Regions from separate parts of the Homo sapiens genome. Here region 2 is linked to region 1. The links come from fine-mapping of genetic effects on gene expression. Tissue or cell type: whole blood. Region 1 holds a variant in brackets; the other region holds the start of a gene. All regions are shown on one strand. Distances are from middle to middle.

Region 1 (10,438 bases):
AGAGACGGGGTTTCACCATGTTGACCAGAATGGTCTCGATCTCCTGACCTTGTGATCTGCCTGTGTTGGCCTTCCAAAGTGCTGGGATTACGGGCATGAGCCACTGTGCCCTGCCTATTTTAGACTAATTTCAATACTTTTGTGCCTCAGGCAATAGAGAGGCCCAAGAAAAGGGAGAGAGAGAAGGAAACAGCTGGTCAGTGGAGCTGTCAGAACACACACACTTATCAAAATTTCCATCTTATATAGGCACAGTTCCTGGCACCACTGATCACAAGGCCCCATAACAGATATAATAATAAGGAAAAATTTTGAAATTGCGAGAATTACCAAAATGTGACATAGAGACACAAAATGAGCACTTGCTGTTACTTGTTCAAGTGAAGAGTGGGCCACAAACCTTCAATCTGTGAAAAACGCAGTATCTATGAAGCACAATAAAGTGAAGTGCATTAAAACAAGATGGGCCTATACTGATACATACTATGACATGAATGAATCTTGAAAACATCACACTAAGTGAAAGAAGCCAGACACAAAATACCTTTTTATTGTCTGATTTCATTTATATGAAATATTATTTAAAGCGGCATGTTAATAGGAACAGAAAACAGATCTGTAGTTCCCAGGAGCAGAGGGAAGGGAGGAATAAGAGTAACAGATACAGAATTTCCACTGGATGTAGTAACAAAAGTTCTGAAACAGACAGTGGTTCACAATATTGCACAACCTTGTAAATGTACTTAATGCCACTGAATTACAATTTTAAAGCAGTTAAAATAATACATTTTATTTTATGTATATTTTACTATAATAAAAATAAGAAGCAGCTCAATTATCCACCTTAATCATACAATAATAGGCTTTGTTTAAAAACTAAACTTTTCATTTTGAGGTAATTATAGGTTTACATGCAGTTGTAACAAATAATATATAGAATTCTGAAGTACTATTTATCCAGTTTGCTTTTTAAAGGATCTTCTGTCTTTATTTTTTCTATTTAAATAATGTAATACAAATTTAAAAGTATCTTCTCTTTGGTGGCTAATAGAGGATTGTGTAATTGGGCATTCTGCAGCTTGGGCTTGCTGCCTCTAGCATGGGGTAAAAGTACAATATGTTTTACTTGGTTACTTATCAGCCCATTAAGAGAGAACAATCTGGCCGGGCACAGTGGCTCATGCTTGTAATCCTAGCACTTTGGGAGGCCAAGGCAGGCGGATCACTTTAGGTCAGAAGTTCAAGACCAGCCTGAGCAACATGTGAAACCCCATCTCTACTAAAAATACAAAAATTAGCAGGGCGTGGTGGCACATGCTTTTAATCCTAGCTACTCGGGACCCTGAGGCAGGAGAATCTCTTGAACTCGGGAGGCAGAGGTCACCATAGGCTGGGATCATGCCATTCCGCTCCAGCCTGGGCAACAGAGCAAGATTCCGTCTAAAAAAAAAAAAAAAAAGAAAGAAAAGAGAGAACAATCTTCTCAGCTATTTTATCATTAATGGGAGACAAAAGGAAACAGAAGTAAGGATAGATATTAAAATGTGGATGAATCATGTACATATTCAAATGCATTTTCCATATTTAATTCCTTTGGTAAGTGACTTATAATTATTTGATTTAATGATTACTATATATATATATTAAAGGTCATGAAACAAAGCATAATCAGGGCTGAAGAAAATTAGGTCCCAGATCATTAAGTATGAGAACATAAAACAAATATAGCACTCTTAAAGTAAGGCCCATTTTCTTCAAGCTAGAGCTCTTTAAATATCTGACATACTATCACCAGAATGTGCTAATGATATTCCGTATACTTGTAAAATAAATTGGCAAACGTTGATAATATGTTTAATTTATTTGTAAAGCTACCACAGACATACAAAAGTCAATTCTGTTTTCTAAGCATGTAGAGGAAGTTGAAAAGAAATGCTGAAAGCACTTTCCCCTTCTTTTTTCCTTGTTTTCTCCTAGTTTCCAATTCTTTCTTTTCCTTTGTCTGTATTTTAGCACTCTCTGCACTGCTTTCTCAGTCTCCGTTGGGATATTTAAAAGCCAACCACAGGCTAAACATTGATCAAGTAAATAAACATTTAACTGGTGTGGGTTCTGCCTACAGCAGGATCATGTGACAAGATCTTAGGAGTTAGAGGACCTCCATTTTCCTAAGGCAGGAAAAGGTTGAGATGCCCAAGAGAATAAGATGGACTTATTGGACATAATCATCACCATTTAAAATGATTTGGATAGGTGCCATGGCTCACACCTGCAATCCCAGCACTTTGGGAGACTGAGGTGGGTGGATCACTTAAGGCCAGGAGTTTGAGACCAGCCTGGTCAACAGAGCAAAACCCCATCTCTACTAAAAAATACAAAAATTAGCTGGGCATGGTGGCGCAAGCCTATAATCCCAGCTACTCGGGAGGCTGAGGCAGGAGAATTGCTTGAACCCGGGAGGCGGAGGTTGCAGTGAGCCAATATCGTACCACTGCACTCCAGCCTGGGCAACAGAGCAAAACTCTGTCTAAAAATTAAAATAAAATAAAATGATTAAATACCTCATACAGATCTGGTGCTACCATTTTGGTCATTCCATGAGTATCTCTCTCCGAGGCTTGTCTAAGATTCAGAAGGATGTCAGGAAAGTCGGGGCACCATTGAGAGAACTCACTCACCTTAAAGCTTGTTAGACCTGGTTCCTTGGAGCCCTCTTTTGACCATGCAATACAAACTCGATGTGTCCTTGAGGAATCTCAGAAGGCTATAGCTGGAAAAGTCCCTATTCGACCATCTAATGAGACAGTGTCCTCAAATGATGAGAACACTGATGCCCAAGCAGTTGAAATATTTTGCCTAATATACTGTGGCTAGTTTAAGTGACCAAACCTAGAGCAGAAAACAATTTTCTTGCTCTGATTCAAGTTCCCAGTCCACTATCTCACACTATGAAGCACATAAAAAGCAGTGATGAACCATCTTCATTATGTGTCCCTGGGGTGTAATTACCGATCATACGAAGCAGAAAGATTAGAAGTAATAGGCCTTCTGCAGCTCTTGCAGCTGTGTTTCCACTGGGTGAGACAGTGTCAAGGGTAGAGGCTACAATACGAACTGGCGAGGGAGGAGAGCCAAGTGACAGACTTCCAGTCAGCAACAGGCTTGGGCCACTTGGCCAGGAGCCACCTAAGTGTCCCATATCCCCTATGCAGAGCAGTCCGGATACTCAGCCTCCAGCTCTTCTAGGAAACTAGCAATGCAGATGCCTCTATGAGTTTGAGATTGTCTAGCTCTGCCCAGTCCAAACGGAAGTGTCCCTGAATCAGTGGGAGGAAGAAGAGAGGCAACTGGTTGGATGAGGACTGAGTTTCATTTTAATTATCTTTGTATCCCCAGTGCCCTAAGTAAAATCGAAGCTCAAATATGTTTATTTGAATAGAGTAACTAATTATAGCCAGAATGTTGTCACCAATCTACTGTAGGCAAAACATTTGTCTCCTCTGAGCCTTGATTTCCAAGTCTATCAAGTAGAAATGTTAATAATGATCCTTGTAGTATTGTTCAAGGATTGACATAAAATTCCACATATGAACACCATTTGGAAACTCTAAAGCACTCTAGCATATAAAGGATAAAAGGTCAGGAAACGGCCTCCACATGGCAAATTCTCAAATAGTCCCATTGCCAATTTTGTTGTTGACATTCTTCCATTCATAAAATATATGCAATTTAAGTTGCAAGAAAACAGATATTTCTATTATAATGTGATATATTCATTCCTAAAAGCAATCTTGTGTTTTCTACAAAATCACACATAAAAATCATACAGCTTATGATAAAAACAGAGTTGGGGCAGTCAACTCAAAGTCCATACACCTTTTTAGCTAAAACATAAAGTCGAAACAACTCAAATAAAAATACTAGCATAATTTTAAAGGCATTTAGATTCCTAATAAATTCTATACTAAATAAATGATTACAGTGGAATGAAGTAAGAAAATGTTAAGGCTGAATAGTTGTGGGGACAAGGGCAAAATGAACTAAGTTTGGGGCCAATTATATAAGCCCTTCCAAGAAATCACACACAGCAAAACTAGGCAAAGAGGAAGAATACAAGGAGAATGGGAATTCCTTACAATACTGTATGAGTATATGCTTACTGTGTCCAACTCTTAGTGTATTTGGCATTCAAGTGGTGGCATTGGTAGTATAAACATTAAGGTGCTAGGGAAAACTGAATTATAGTGACTTATGTATTATAGTGACATCATTTTTCCATTTACCAATTCTGTATGAGCAAATTTCCTTATAGCAACATTCATTGGGAGGGAATATTCTTATTTTTTATGAATATCAGTGGGGCCATCTTCACACGGAATGGGGTGAGGAGAGCTGTCTAAAAACATACTTTTTTGACTGACATAGGTTCCTAGACTTCGGAACAGATTTAACAGTTTAGACCACTGGAGATAACTTTGAGAAACATTGACCCAAATTAAGCAGTCTAAAAATGCAAACTAAAGGCCGTCACAGTCATCCTTAATCTTAATGCTATTGAATGGTATCAAACTTTACTGAATCCAAGTCTTCGTATTTGCTGGTATATATAAACGTGCCTTTATCTATTAATCAACCAACATTTATTAAATAGATAAATCTGTGCTAGCTGTTGTCAGAATACATAATTGTTTCATACAATGACTGTAATGGCAGAAACACATGCACATACACACACACACTTAGAAAGTAGGCTATCAATACTGAAGAGTACATGAAACCTATCCATTTAGTGATAGAGATATTAAGGACTAAATAGATGAGAGTTTCATCTTTCCACTGGGCTAAGGGGTTTTAATCAAAACAGACAACCTTAAATTGGGGAAACTAGCAGAATATAGCAAATATCCTCCCAGCATATGCTCTTGTTAAAGCCAATAAAAAAAAACTGAGATAATACTATAAATTTCTTATTCATGTTTACCTGATTGATTTCTGGTCTCGGGAGAGAACTAAATGCTTCAAAAGTTTTTCTGCGGCAGTTAGGGCTCACCAAATATCACCAAATAATTATGTGCTTGTCTGTATGTCCCAGAGTCCCTAGCAGTAGGTGGAAGCCATGTGGGCTGGTTCTCATCAATGAACAAGGATCAGAACTAACAATGTATTACCTCCACCTCCGGCCAAGGGAGTCAAGAGCAAGTGTGCCATTTTCTTTTTCTTTTTTTTTTTTATTATACTTTAAGTTTTAGGGTACATGTGCACAACGTGCAGGTTTGTTACATATGTATACATGTGCCATGTTGGTGTGCTGCACCCATTAACTCGTCATTTAGCATTAGGTGTATCTCCTAATGCTATCCCTCCCCCCTCCCCCCACCCACAACAGGCCCTGATGTGTGATGTTCCCCTTCCTGTGTCCAAGTGTTCTCATTGTTTAATTCCCACCTATGAGTGAGAACATGTGGTGTTTGGTTTTTTGTCCTTGCGATAGTTTGCTGAGAATGATGGTTTCCAGCTTCATCCATGTCCCTACAAAGGACATGAACTCATCATTTTTTATGACTGCATAGTATTCCATGGTGTATATGTGCCACATTAAAGTTCATATGGAACCAAAAATGAGCCTGCATTGCCAAGTCAATCCTAAGCCAAAAG[A/C]ACAAAGCTGGAGGCATCATGCTACCTGACTTCAAATTATACTACAAGGCTACAGTAACCAAAACAGCATGGTACTGGTACCAAAACAGAGATATAGACCAATGGAACAGAACAGAGGCCTCAGAAATAATGCCACATATCTAACCATCTGATCTTTGACAAACCTGAGAAAAACAAGCAATGGGGAAAGGATTCCCTATTTAATAAATGGTGCTGGGAAAACTGGCTAGCCATATGTAGAAAGCTGAAACCGGATCCCTTCCTTACACCTTATACAAAAATTAATTCAAGATGGATTAAAGACTTAAATGTCAGATCTAAAACCATAAAAACCCTAGAAGAAAACCTAGGCAATACCATTCAGGACATAGGCATGGGCAAGGACTTCATGTCTAAAACACCGAAAGCAATGGCAACAAAAGCCAACATTGACAAATGGGATCTAATTAAACTAAAGAACTTCTGCACAGCAAAAGAAACTACCATCAGAGTGAATAGGCAACCTACAGAATGGGAGAAAATATTTGCAATCTACTCATCTGACAAAGGGCTAATATCCAGAATCTATAATGAACACAAACAAATTTACAAGAAAAAAGCAAACAACTCCATCAAAAAGTGGGCAGAGGATATGAACAGACACTTCTCAAAAGAAGACATTTATGCAGCCAAAAGACACATGAAAAAATGCTCATCATCACTGGCCATCAGAGAAATGCAAATCAAAACCACAATGAGATACCATCTGACACCAGTTAGAATGGCGATCATTAAAAAGTCAGGAAACAACAGGTGCTGGAGAGGATGTGGAGAAATAGGAACACTTTTACACTGTTGGTGGGACTGTAAACTAGTTCAACCATTGTGGAAGTCAGTGTGGTGATTCCTCAGGGATCTAGAACTAGAAATACCATTTGACCCCACCATCCCATTACTGGGTATATACCCAAAGGATTATAAATCATGCTGCTATAAAGACACATGCACACGTGTGTTTATTGCGGCACTATTCACAATAGCAAAGACTTGGAAGTGTGCCGTTTTCTATCTACAACTCTCTCCTTTGACTGTAACCATAGAGATGTGTGTTCCCAAGGGCATAGTACAGGAGGGATTGGGGTCATCTAACTCACACAGGAATGAGATACATGAGCAAAATAAACCATTGTGGTATGAAGTCACTGACATTTTAGGGTCTCTTAAGCTAGGTAATAGTGTTTACCTAGTTATTAGTCTTCCATAAAGGTTCTGATCCCTAGATACTCTCAAAATGGAATAGAATTAAAATTTATAAAATTAGAATACCAAAATGGTGAGGAATTAGATACCTTTCTAATGTATGTGTTGGTGCTGGATGCTTTGTCAGGGCACTGATTAAGTTGGCTTGCTCTGTTACTATGACAAAAAAAGAAATTAGCATTCTCTACTGATTTAAATTCTCTAATGGTCTAATCATTTCATTATTTATAATCTCTTCCTGGAGAAAAAGAATCACCCAAAAACCACTTCTAAAAGGCATTGTTTAAGGTGAATGCGGGAAATAGTTACAAAACCACTGAGGGCTAAGCCTAACTAATTCAATCCCTGCAGGAAATTCCTTATAACACAATGGCTCAGATGCTGTCAGGTAAGTGATACTTGAATATACTTCCCAGGAAATTCACAGAATATCCTGTCTTGGCCATTTGTGTAATGGATCTGAATCAAATTTCAGTATTTGTCTATCACAGAAAAACAGTAAACCCTAATGTGCAAATAAGCATATGTTAGAACTCCAAAAAGTAATAGTGGCCAGTTACAATGTGATTTACACACCAGCAACTCAACAGAATATAGTTAGAGAACCATACCATTTTTTTTTCAACTCAGCAAGCCTTGATGCTAAAAGAATAGATGTATGTACTACAGTTGTGTTTATGTAATTGCTGAGTTAATCTAAGCATATACATTCTTTTTCCTCTAGAATAGTTATCTTAATTATGCCCAGTTTGTAAGCATACTCTATATCATGCTCTAGGCCAGGGTTCAACAAACTGTGTCCTACAGACCAAATCCTGCCCACTACCTGCTTATGTAAATAAAGTTTTATGGGAACGCAATCATATCCTATTATTTACTATTGTCTGTGGCCCTGAGACCTGCTTTTGCCATACCATGATAGAGTCAAGTAGTCACTACAGAGCTTGTGTGGCCAGCAAAAGCTAAAAACTTTATTATCTCTGACTCTTCACCAAAAATAGGTTGTCTGCTCATGCTCTAAATTTCACTGAAGCAAACTTTTAAAATATGTATATTATAATTTGCATATGCAAAGATACATATTTATAAATACGTTATATCTTTATAAGTCTGTACTATCTTAGTTTCCTATTCTTAAACTAATCAAAGGCAAGAAATAGGGTAACATTCTGGTAGATGAAATAAATGTTATTCTGACTGCATTATTTTTAATCTTTGGTGCACTAAAGTACAATTGTATAATTTTGCAGACTTCTAGCCTTTCCTTGGAATGATATTTGTCTTCTCAATCCATTTTAGTTTCTTTGGAAGGAAGATAATCTCTACATGGCCTGGGCATAAAAGCTTTGACAGTACCAATTTATTTTTACATTTCCTTAAAGAAGGAGTTTTAACAAAGCTTGTAACCAGATCACTCCTAGGCTACAGAGTTAACATTTATTGAACGTCTATTCTGTGTGCCAATTACTTACAGAAAGATTTCATAATTTTAATCTTTATCCCTCCTTTATAAATGAGGCTCACAATGGCTAGTAATGCTCAAGGTCACAAAATCACTTAGTTGTAGAATCCAGGACCTAGTTGTCTTGAAACCAAGCCTGGGACACTTCCTTCTCTACCTCTGGTATTCAGCCCTTTTGTTATATTAAACTCAACTGACTTTTACAAAAAGAAAGAAAAACAAGTTTCGAAAAGATTAGCATCTTACTATATTTAAGCCAGACTAAATGTTTAATGGAAAAAAATTCCTCAAATATGATTTCTTAGTGGATAGCATTGAAAGCTTTTGAATGTGTCAAGTTTGAATGGTTTTAAACTGATCTAAATTGATTCTAAACTGACAAAGTTTATCACTCCCAGTGCTTCCATCTCTTTTGCTTTTAGGGTGCCAATTCTGTTAAGGCAAAGGAATCCAGCTGCTAGGTGATACCACTTGAAAATATTACTGCAAAGAAAACCCCCACCTGTTGTAGCTAGTCATAATACAGACAGACTTTTATTATTTTCCCTGTGTTTCTGAATAAAAGTGAAAAGGCCTGGAGGGGAATATACTCACTACTCTCCAGAAATAGCGGAGTGTTAGAAAAGAGCTCTGCTATCTTCCTGAGAAGGTTATACCTCAGGAATTCTGGGAGGAGGTGTGCCAGGCAATGGGCCCTGAGACCTGCTCCAACCCTCTGGATATGGCCACATGGTCCTTCGTTGGTAACCAGGACCCCAATCTCTAAGAGAGGTATGGCCAGAATAGCTAATGGTGGACCTATTCCACACTCCTTCAGCCTGTGAGTGAGCTCTTAACTAACAAAATGTCCATTCAGTAGCCCCCAGCCTCCCTATCCCTCCCTAAGAATGAAAATTTCTAGTGTGTTTATGTGGGTTGGGGCAATAGGAAGACTTCATGCCATGGCTGGGAACAATTGTTTTTAGATTCATAAAAATAAACACTAACTTCACGGTTTAAACCTGTGACTGTGAGTGGCTAACATTGAACTATCTCTAAAAGATCGTTAATTTTCATCTTTCTCATAAAGAAATGATCTTTATTTGAAAACAAGAATATTTGTTTTATTTCTGCTGGCATATTGGTTTCCTTTCTGAATTTAAAATATGCTCGATGTGCATGGATATATATTAAGTCCCAAAAAGATTAAGTTTAAATTTAGCATATAAAATAGGTAAAATGTTTGGAGCATTACTCTGGACCAGGCATTATAAAAAGTGTTAATAATCTCAATCAATTAAAAAAACACAATAGGTTGTAACTTAGTTTGCAGGTGAGGAAACTTCAGTAAGTCACCTCAATAATCAGTGTTAGATATTAGACTCAGGTGGTGTAATTCCACAGCCTTTCCCCTTAGCCACTACTTACTACTGTCTCCCTGCTGTATGTTATTCATGTCATCAAGGAGTTTTTGTGACTTAGTTTTTGTTTAGTTATACATTTTAAATTAAGCTACCTTAATTTATTAAGATTATAAACTCAGCTGTAGTTATTTATTACTAATTTTATTTTCTAAGAGAATCTCACATTATCAAATTGCATCACAACCCAACTACTATTACTGTAAGTATGTCTTACAATTAGGCACCTTCTTGAAGTAACATTATTTTAAGACATAAGAATCATCTGGAAAAGATGATTGCTAAGTAGACATTCATTGATATTCAAGGCTATTGTTGAAAGCCTTAGACCAGTGTTTTCCAAACATAGGGAAGGAGATCCCTATTCCATTTTTTGGAATGGAGCCCTTCTCCATTCTTCCAACAGAGGCTCCAGAACTAGAGCCAAGACCAATCCTGGGAAGGAATACATTCACCAGGCTCCTCCCAACATCTACCCAGGCAAAGATCTCTCCTGCCCAAGCCAGTCATGACCAGGGGAGTAGGAAAGTTGAATATCAGGATGTAGGGTTGCTAGATACTCAGTTACATTTGAATTTCAGATAAACAGCAAGTAAATTTTTAGAATAAGTATGTCCCATTCACTATTTTGAATGTTTTATAATAAGTATGTCTCCTCTACTGTTTTCCCCCATCCCAGGCT
Region 2 (10,438 bases), 32 kb after region 1:
CCCCTAAATCAGATATAAACTTGGCACTTGAAGAGAACTGAGAGGAACAATGTTATATCTCTGTATCTAGATGGGGTTCACATACTAGCCTCTTCAAAATCTTATGACACAATTTTTAAGTGTCCAAACAAATAGAAAAGTACCATGGTAAAAAGTACCATACACTGTATATTATTGATTGTAATTTTCAGACGCACATTTTCCCAATTTTGACATCTCTGAAACTAGGAACTATCTAACAATCTAGCAATTATAATTGGATTGGGAGTGGCTTGTCTTTTTTAGTGGTACATAAAATAATGGTGCATCTTTCAACTGATGGTGTCTTCCATTCCATTATTTATAAATTTGGATAGACAGAAATATTTCAGGCAGAGGTATAATAAAATAAGGCAGAGGTATATAATAAAGGGACAATCTGATCCCTTAAGTATTTTCTGAGTTTGTCAATAGTCAATTCTTTTGCGATTCATTCAATTAAAAAGTGCCTATTATTTCTAGGTGTTATGGTTAAAGATCCTACCCTCACAGAGCATACAGCAAGCTGGAAAGACAGGCAATTAGATAGTTAATTATAATACCGTGGTGCATTATATAATAGAAGCAAAGGTGCTGGGATACACATGTCCTAAGGTAGGGTCCAATCTACTTCAGGGTATCTCTTGGAAATGACGTTTATTCAGGGATTGAGATCAGTAGCAGTGGGAGTAACTACTTATGCAAAGTCCCCAAGGAGACTTTAGAGTAGCTGGCATAATAAAGGAGCTGAAAGAAGCTCAATAATCTTGAAGATAGAAATATATGCAGTCATTTGCATCTCTTGATACTCTACTGTACTTGCTTTGAGGGCGAATACAATTCTCCAGTCACAGACTGCTCTGAATAGGCAATCTATTCTGACTTTAGCACTGTGGCAACAGTTTCAAAATATCTTTCATCTCAGTTTCTTAACATGAATTTGAGTACACTATTTTGTATTTCACACAACAGAAGAGAAGTGTAGGTAAAGAATAGCATTTTAGTCCCCAACTTTTCTAAATATATTTTAAACATGAGCTACTTTATTCTACTAAAATATGTTAAGATGTGGAAATTCAGCAAGTTCTAAATCTAGTGGGAAGTTTATTGGGTTGGAAGTGGAGGAACATGTTAGAGGAGCATCTATCTACTGAAGTCAGAACATCAGTGATAAGCTGTGGCCCAAGAGCTCATGCTTCAAAATAGCTGGGTAAGTGTTATGACAGGAGGGAAGAGAAATAGTTAAACTAGTATAGCATATATATGTGTCTCATGGTTACTCTCATTGCCTGTTTACTAAACAAACAAAAATCCCGTGAATTCATTGCTGCCTTTACAAACATCACAATGAGTAAGACAATTTTCACCATCTTCAGCAATTCCTGACAATACATTGTCTGCCATTGGGAGTCATTCTTTGTTTTGAATAAGTGGCTGACTTCCTCCCCATATTCAGCCATCTCCCATCTCCTCACTGGATTTCATTTTGAATAGGAAATCTTGCCTGTGAAAAGAAGACCCTTGCTTCTAGGCCAACCAAAATGTTTCTAGGGAAGAGAGACATATAGTTTAATTAGGGCTAATTCTATATTTATATTCTTAATAACGAGAAATAGTAGTCTTACTTGAGTTACACTTAATGCTGTACACCTAAAAATCATGGAAATAAAAGATTGACTTGTATCATTAATTAGGTCTTTATCCAAGTATTTTAGACAACTATGTTTGGATTTCACATTTAGAGGAGTGAGCAAGAGAGAATGAACTTATCTTTAGGCAGCCAATATAGCATATTATTTTAGAGCATTTAATTTGAGGTCAGAGATATGAATTGAGTAGATTTGTCATTAGTTCTTCAACTTTGGACAAATGAAATTAACTTCTTAATACTATATTTTGATTTCCTCATCTCTAAAATATTGATAATAGTTATAAAGTTTTAATTTTTTCTTTTCTTTTTTTCAAGGCTAATCAACAAGCTGAGGGAGTGAAAAAAGAACAAAGAAATCTGTGACTGCTTGTGATCAATTAGTAAACTTAATTTTTTAGATTAAAATGAAATAATACATGCAAAGCCCTTGGCACAGTGCCTTGCACATAATACATTTCGGGGTTAAGTTGTGCTAGCTATTCTGTTATTGATTGTCTTGCCCTTTGTTCTCTGGAAGGTTGGATCTTGCCATTTGGGGATGGCCAATGGGAAGGCTGAGCAAGACATCAGAGGGTGGGAGGAAAGGAGGTATATTTATTTTCCTTACTCCTTCTCTGCTGGGCTTCAATTTTGTCACTAGCTGCATTCCTTTTTATGACCACAACTCCAGTCTAATGGCCACCCTCCCATAACTAGAGTTCATAATCAAACTAACACTGCCACCTCCTCAGGCCTAGGAATGGTCATGGTTTTTCTTCTCACCTTGCTTCAGGTTCTTTTTTCCCTACTGTTGCTTGCGCTAGATGCTCCACCCTCTTTTCTTGTTCCTTTAAGGCCTCTCTAAACTGTCACTTTATGAAACTGTCTTCAGTTAAATCCTTTATATGTGACATCAGTTTATGCTGAGACTTTGACATACATAAAATAACAATCCTTTGGACATAAGGACATCTTTTTGATGAATCATTTTAGTAAACGTTGTAAGGAGCTAATATAAGACAGTCTAAATCAAATAGGAAGTTTATTGGGATGCTGGTGGCTTGTTGTTCTGATGTAAACCCAGTTTGGAAGGCTGTAGAGAGTTTATTTAGATGTCAGAGGGTGGTAGGATGGAAAGGTGGAATTCTTTTCTCGATGTATAAAACAAGGTCATATCTTCAGTGGCAAAATGAACATGAGGATTATGGAGAAAGTAAAGAAAAGTGATTGGCTATAATGGACAGTTTATGCTTATGGGTTGTGGTAGGCAGAATAATGGTCTCCCAAAGATATCCATGACCTAATGCCTGGAACCTGTGAATATGTTATCTTAGATGGTAAAAGGGACTTGGAAGATGTAATTAAATTAAAGATCTTGAGATGAGGAGATTATTCTGGTAGGCACATTGTAATTACAAGGATCCTTAGGAAGGTAGTAGGGTCAGAGTCTGAGAAGGAGATGTGATGATAAAGCAGAGTCATGGGGGAAGATCTGAAGATTCTACCCTGCTCGGTTGAAGATGGAGAAAGGGGCCACAGGCCAAGAATGCAGGTGGTGGCCAGAGGCTGGTGAAAACAGGGAAACTGATTTTCCCCTAGAACCTCCAGAAGAAATGCAGCCCTGGTGACATCTTGATTCTAGCCCAGTGATACTTCTGACCTACAGAACTGTACAATAGTAAATTTATGTTGTTTTAAGCTGGTGATCTATGGCAAGTTGTTACAACAGCAATAAGAAACTGACATAGGAGTAGTAGGAGATAGAGAGAGGGTGTTGGATTAGGGCAGTCAGTTGAGAATTTTGGATTTTATCTTAAAGGCAACAAAGAACCACCAAAGATTTTTGACTAAAAACAGATATAGTAAAAATGATGTATTAGGAGGGTAGACTGGAAGTTGGGTTCAAATTGAAGACAGAAAGATAAGCTCTACAGTAGTGTGCATGGATAAGTATGGTGATGAGTCCCCAGGTTACAAACGGACTCTGAATTGATGAGAAGTTTCCAAATCTGAAAGAGATTGCTAAAGAAGAGCCTACAGAATATAATGACTGATGGGAAAGCAGTCCAATTTCAGATCCCTCATGTGTTGCGAAATGGGCATAAATATAGTGCACACAAGGTTTCTAAATATTTTAAGTCTCTTCCTGGATTCACCAATGTATATTTCACCAACATATATATGAAATTGTAACTTGTTAAACTTCTCTGTTACTTCAAGTTTCACTCTTGTCTTTTTAGAGGATACGCAAACCTCATTTCATCATTTCTACTCTAGAGACTGCTTATTTGGTAGAATGAAAAAGTACAACTTGGATAGTAAACTACTGTATTCAGATTTTGCACAAAAACAACAAAATACAATCTAAAAAAATTTGAGTTGGAGAAGAATCATAGGTCAAATATGTGTAAAAAGTAGTGGCAGTAGCTGGTAAGTTAAACCACTCACCGGCTATAATGCTGTTCAGCAGTTACCACTGTTTGGATTATTGGACATTTCCTGAGTAGTGGGAAATGTTTGGATGAAAAGCCAGTAGCTAATTATTAACTCTCTTTACATTACCTCCCTTCTGAAAAAAGCTCTGCTTGCTGATAATCAACTTCTAAATCATCTTCATAAAACTTAACAATGCTTGGCCATCTAAGGCAGGTCTAAACTAGCTGGCTCTACCCTGTTTTTAGTGGTAAAAATGCTAAATTAACTAGTACTAATAACCATGCCAGCAGTAAAAACACTGAACAATTGAATATCAATGATATGTTAAAGCCAGCTGTTAATTAACCCATTAATAAGGTGATTTTCTTTCACACAGAGATTCTATCGATACACTTTCCCCCCACCTTCTTCCATTTTTCACCATTTCAACTTTCCCCCACCCCAATCAGTAACTGGTAAAAAAGATCTGACCATGAGTTCATTATTGGGAAAATCTTACAAAATGCTATATTTCAAGCTTTTTCTAAATTGGATACAACTTTGCATTTCCACTATGTTTTTAAGTCCCCTCCTTAAAAATACACATTTATGTACAAATAACAATACTATATTTTGCATCTTAAAAGTAGACTGCCCTGTGATATTTACAGAGAAAATGTTCACCATTCCTTTCTACGTTTCAAAATATCCCTCCTCTTGGGTGCTGACATAGAAACATCATTTTGGAACAAGTGGCAGTTTCGTCTTGCATCCCTGCCTTTTCTTGTTCTGCATGGGAAAAAAGCCTAAATAGTAGACAGCAAGAAAATTCAATAATGTCCACTCTGGAACAACCCGAGGGTAGGAATTTTGCATATGTATCAGGCGCCCTATAAGCATCACCCTCCCATCCCATGCCATAAAAAAGGGTGGAGGGGAGGAAATATTCAGCAAAGTCCTAATATACAATGTGTATTGTAAAAACAACTTTAATTTTAAAAGTGAATTCTACCTTCTAAGGTTTTCAGTGCTGCCTCACTCCTACTCCTAGGGTGAAGGACTTTGGAGAGACACGAAAACTAATTCATATCAAAACCAGAACGCGAAACTCCTGCCTGCCCCGTAGCCTGGCCTGAGTACCTGGAATGCCCGAAAGTGGATGGGCGCTCTCTCTTCCTATCTGGCCCATGGCTCTGAGGACCTCCCTCCCCGCTCCAAGCCCCAAGCCCGCGAGCAGGAGATGCTCAGAGAAAAGCGAGTCGCTCACCAGTGAGGAGCCAGCAGCAGGCGACAGCGACCCCTGGGCGGGCGCGGGGCCGAGGGGCCATGGCCGGAGCAGCCTCAGCGCCAGGGGGCCGCGCTGGTTCGCAGGGCAGGACCGGGCGCGGGAGCTGCGCTCTCTGGCTGGGCCACTTATCCCGCTGCCGCGGTTCCCAGTCCTCTGCCCCAGTGGCAGCGGCGCCCAGGAGCGGGAGAGGAGTGATTTCCTGTGTTTTCGTCGAATTCCTCTAAATGCGCTCCACGCTTTTCACATCCCAGACGGATTGCCACATCGCCCGCCCCTTCGCGCTCTTGGTCTCTGAAATCTCACTGGCAGCTTCCCAGGCTCTGTCCGAGACATGGACAAATAAAGCCAGCTTCGCGGGTCCGTGTTTAGGCTAAAGTCCACGGGCTGTAGAAGCAAACCTTAAAGGGACATCTGCCTTTCATTGAGAGGGTGATCTCGTTCTCCGGGCCAAATCCCCTAAGGTGGTAGGAAGGCGGGTAAGGGCTGGACCTTCGGGAGGGTGTTGCCAGCCCAGTGGCTCCGCCTTCACACCCCTTACTTCTCCCGGCCCGGGCAGGGAGGGCGCTTTGACAGTGCCTGGGCGCCCTTAACGGGAGGCAGCTTTCCCGGGTCCATTGCGCAGAGGGATTAGGCCGTCTGTGAAAATGCGAGGATCTGGAATCCCCCCTTCCATCCCCTGCGGACACTTGAAATTCACCGTGAAGTCGTTTTGCACGAAAGGGGGCGTCCCCACCACCCCGACAGGCTCCACTGAGGGCTTTGCTTTCGCTTATGGGGGGGTGGGGGGGTTGCTTCGTTTATGGTAATTCGTGGTTAAAGGGTGGTTGCAGATAAGCTTTTCTTTGAGATAACTAGGATAAGGGGAGAAAAGGAGAAGCAAGACGGAGGAAAAACAGTAAGAGGGAGAGCGAGAAGGGAAGAGAGGAAGAAAAGCAGCCTCCTTGGAAATGGAATGTGTGTGGGCTATTTTGTTTAAGTGAATTAGGATGTTTGTACGCTGGTAATTGAATCTAATAAAGAACTCGGGGCACTACTTTATTTTTTTCTTGCTTGAAACTTTCACGAGTGAAAATGCATTAAGAGTCCAGAAGTGCTTAGGAACTTGCAATGCTTCCCTTTCCTGGTGAGTTGAACAACCTCTCTGAGTCAAAAGCCATATTCACCCTAGCTTCAACCAATGCTGGCTATTTTCAAAATAGCTGTGTCTTAGCGGTTTTGAGAATTTCAAAGACAGAAAGAATAAGTGGATTTGTGTTTAGAGGAATCTGAGGGAAACAGTTCAATTCAATTCTTCAACTCAACAACTAATTGAGCATCTCTAGCAGAACTAGGGCTAGGCAGGACAAGAGTGCCACCCAAAGGAGGGTTCGTTGAGCAGAACGCAACACAGGTAGCACAGAACAGGTAACACGAGGGACAGGAAGGAAGAAGCCCACAGGGTTCACTGGATACATTGCCAGATAGAGGATCACAGCAACTAAAAGCTGGAGAAGACAAAAGTTGAAGAAGTTTAAGGAGCGTCAAAAATGGGGTGGGCAGACCCAAGGAGGTTGAAGGCCATCAGATCTCAGTATGTTGACCCATTAATCAAGAAATTCCTTTTCTATTATGTATCTGAACTGATTCACTATTTAGTAAATACATTAAAAATCTCGTTCTCCCGTTTTTAGTTTTTATAATGTCATTTCTCAGTTCTGTCTTCAAATTTACACAAATGAGTCTCTAGAAAAATTGTATTATGTTGGGTCACAGTTCAATCCCATTGGACTTTACTTAAGTTCCTTTGTTTGTGTTCAATGCTCTCATACCCTGCCAAGGAATTCATTTCCTGTGTATATCTCGTTTCCCTGTTGGTAGTATCAGTTATGTCTTATGCCTCTCAGTATGACTCTCTGTGCTTTGAACAGTAACCAATAGATATTGATTAATTCGTAGACATTTAAAAATCATAGTAAGTACTTTCCCAATGATATTTCTCCAAATTGCTTAGTTTTCAAAAACATATAATAGTGTGTCTATATATACACAATCATGTGTATGTATGTATGTGTACATATATATGTACAGCATATACATACATATGCAAATACATATATGGCATTTTAGCAAATTGCAATATATTTCATTAGAAAAAACAAAAAGAAATTGTAAAATATTGAAATAAAGTAGGGTTAACATATAATATGTTCAAGTTTACAATTACTGGGAAATTTACCTTTCTTCTGGGGGCTAATATATAATTTCAATTTTAATATTTTTATTTCCTCTAGGACTTACAAATTATTGGTGATAACCATCACTAACAGTGATATTGTTACAATTAATTTTCACAAGTTACAAATTTTATGTTTACATGTTTACATATTTATGAATCTTTTATATGTCTAGTCAATACAAATGTAGAGACTGAGAGATAACTATGGTTAGAGAATTAATTTTAGAATCAGTGCTTATTTTCTGAACTTCAATAAACCCAAATACAAATAAATGTCAAGCCGGTTATTTTCTTAACCAATTTTATTCTGACTGACAGAAAGACATGTCATTGAGTAAAGATTTAGAGAAGACAGAAACTTGCCCAGAGTCACAAACTAGTTATTGATATGAGACACTTGATGACAAATGTTTCAGCTCTAGACTTTATACTACATACTTTTCTATTTTAAATGAGACTTGATTTGATCAGATCTCTTTAAGGGTTTGGAAGCATGAGTAGGAGCATGAACCTTATTGTGAACTGCACACGCTTCTTATGAGAATCTAATGCCTGATGATCTGTCACTGTCTCCCATCATCCCCAGATGAAAACGTCTAGTTGCAGGAAAACAGGCTGAGGGCTCCCACTGATTCTACATTATGGTGAGTTTTATAATTACTTCATTATATATTATAACATAATTATAATGGGAATAAAGTGCACAATGAATGTAATGTGTTTGAATCATCTTGAAACCGTTTCCCCTACCCCTGGTCTGTGGAAAAAATGCCTTCTATGAAACCGGTCTCTCTGCCAAAACGGTTGGGGATGGCTGCACTGAAAGATTAGAGACTGAACTGATTAAGAATTTGGAAAGTGGATGTCTATGAAATGAGGCAAGAGTAATTGAGATTATTAACCAATAATCTCAAAAAGAAAAACATATACTTAAAACCAAAGTATTCTTCTTGGAGTTAATCTAATATACTGAGTAAAGTAACTAGAGTAAGTAAGGTTCTGGAGTTACGCTGCTTGGACTCAAGTCCTGGAACCACAATATAGTAGCTGTGTGATTTGGGAAACGTCATCAAGTTTATCTAAGCCTCAGTTTTCTCAAATGTAAAGTGGGAATGAAAATACTGTACTACTTCTGGTCTGAGAATTGCTGTGGGGATTAAATGAACCGAGCCTCTGAGCATTTAGCACAATGCCTGGATTAAAGTAAGTGCTCGGTTAGTATGAATCATTCTTCTCTGTAAATAGAAGAATTGGTATTAAACAGACCATGTAAACAGGGCAGGCTCTGCGTGTGGTAGACCCTGTAGGAAGTGGTGAAATTTGATGGCCATCAGAAGAGGAACTTTAATGTCCGCCTAAAAATATCTCCATCAACTCCTATTATTATTTCTGGAATCCTCGCTTTAAAAATATTTACCTTGGATTAGGGAATTATCTTGAAGATAGTTCTATAAAATGGGTATGCATGAAGACATCAGAACCCATTATAACGTTCACATGAATTTGCTTTTCAAATTGGCTGGCCGTCAGAGGTTTTTTTTTTTTTTTTTTTTTTTTAATTTTTTTACAAGAGAAGAACATTCCGCTAAGAGGTTGGGGGAATAGAAGAGGTTCTAGAACTCCGTGTCTAATGTATGCCAGGGTTCTTTAGCAGTAAGATTATAGGTTCTCAAAGCTACAGGATAAATAAGGTACTCCCACCTGGGTAGTGGGGGTGGTGCTGATTTTACTCAAAAATAAATAATTTAAAAATTGTTGTTTGCTAAAATAACAGATTTTTATAAGAAATATTTTTAAATCATGTTTTCTTTTTAAAAGTCAAATATGAGATTTTAAATACATTTTAAGGTAGCATCAAAGTGTGGTTTTACCCCAACCCCATCCCCTCCACTCTCAGGTGTTAGGGGTAGGTGGAAGTGTACAGAACTGCTTCCGTTTTTACAAAGATTTTATGAAGATTTGGATTTTTAAGTTTTAGTATGTAAGCACTTAGGGGAATATACCCCAAAACAGTGGGGCTAACTCACAAAGCTAACTCATATGGAAAACTTAGTCTAGTTCAATAATTTTTAATTTTCTGGCATATATTGGGCTCCAGGGCTATGTTCTGCAGAGGCAAAAATGGATACAACAGTTGTTATTCCACTGCAAACCTGCTGTTCATTAATTTCTTTCACTTGTAACTAGGAAGAGAAAATAAGTAGTTTTGTGCTCAATTGTAACATTGGCATATTTCATTTTAAGCCTATTAAATTAAACAGTCTAGTGAAATTATCCTAATAGTTGTTGTTGATATACCTTGAGAACCTATGATTGCTTCCTCTCTGACCAAAATAAAGTCACAGTGATATGGAACTTAAACTTCACCATGAGCCAACCATTTGTTTTTTGTTATTACGTAATATTCCTGTGTGTTTTTTCACTTAAAATATAAAATAGGTGTTTCTCCCTCCCTATTTCCTGAACAAGCCTGTGCCAGAAACCTTGTCCAAAGACATTTGGGCAACTGGTACTTAAGAAAAAACAAAAAAACAAAATACTTGACTTCAGAATCCTGGTGAGGAACAGTTCTCAACACTATAGGAAACTTCCTTGGACTTACTGGCAGACTTCAACATGAGTGACACACCAGGGCTGCAGCAGGGGAGGGTGGACCAGGGTGGTGCCCTGGCAGGAATGTTCAATTCGTGGCATTCTATGACTCAGAATAACAACCACTGATGAGCAGTAACATTTTAGCTGCATTGCTGGGTCCCTTAATTTGAAATATGACTTAATTATATTTAAGCTGTTATGCAATTCTAGGATCATTTGAACAGGTTGATTTAATTATTTTCTTTTAACCAATTTGTAAAAAGTTAAATAAAGTAAG

Evidence for each region. PIP is the estimated chance that this variant, and not a neighbour inherited with it, causes the effect.
Region 2: it holds the start of ITGA1, and the variant in region 1 is fine-mapped to the expression of ITGA1 in whole blood (TOPMed, PIP above 0.99).

What each region holds. Positions count from the first base shown.
Region 1 is chr5:52,815,315-52,825,752 of GRCh38, reverse strand. The region is part of intron 1 of ITGA1 (integrin subunit alpha 1); the gene reads right to left. Among named protein-coding and RNA genes, the nearest start is that of PELO-AS1, 20 kb to the right of the region's middle. The variant A/C (reference allele first, on the strand shown) is at 5,656.
Region 2 is chr5:52,783,307-52,793,744 of GRCh38, reverse strand. It overlaps ITGA1 (integrin subunit alpha 1), which reads right to left and starts at 5,829. Exons shown (of 29, transcript NM_181501.2): 1 at 5,331-5,829. The coding sequence starts at 5,391. It overlaps PELO (pelota mRNA surveillance and ribosome rescue factor), which reads right to left and starts at 5,829. Exons shown (of 3, transcript NM_015946.5): 1 at 5,331-5,829. PELO-AS1 (PELO antisense RNA 1) reads left to right here. Exons shown (of 5, transcript NR_186455.1): 2 at 8,153-8,210. RefSeq lists an enhancer at 5,862-6,141.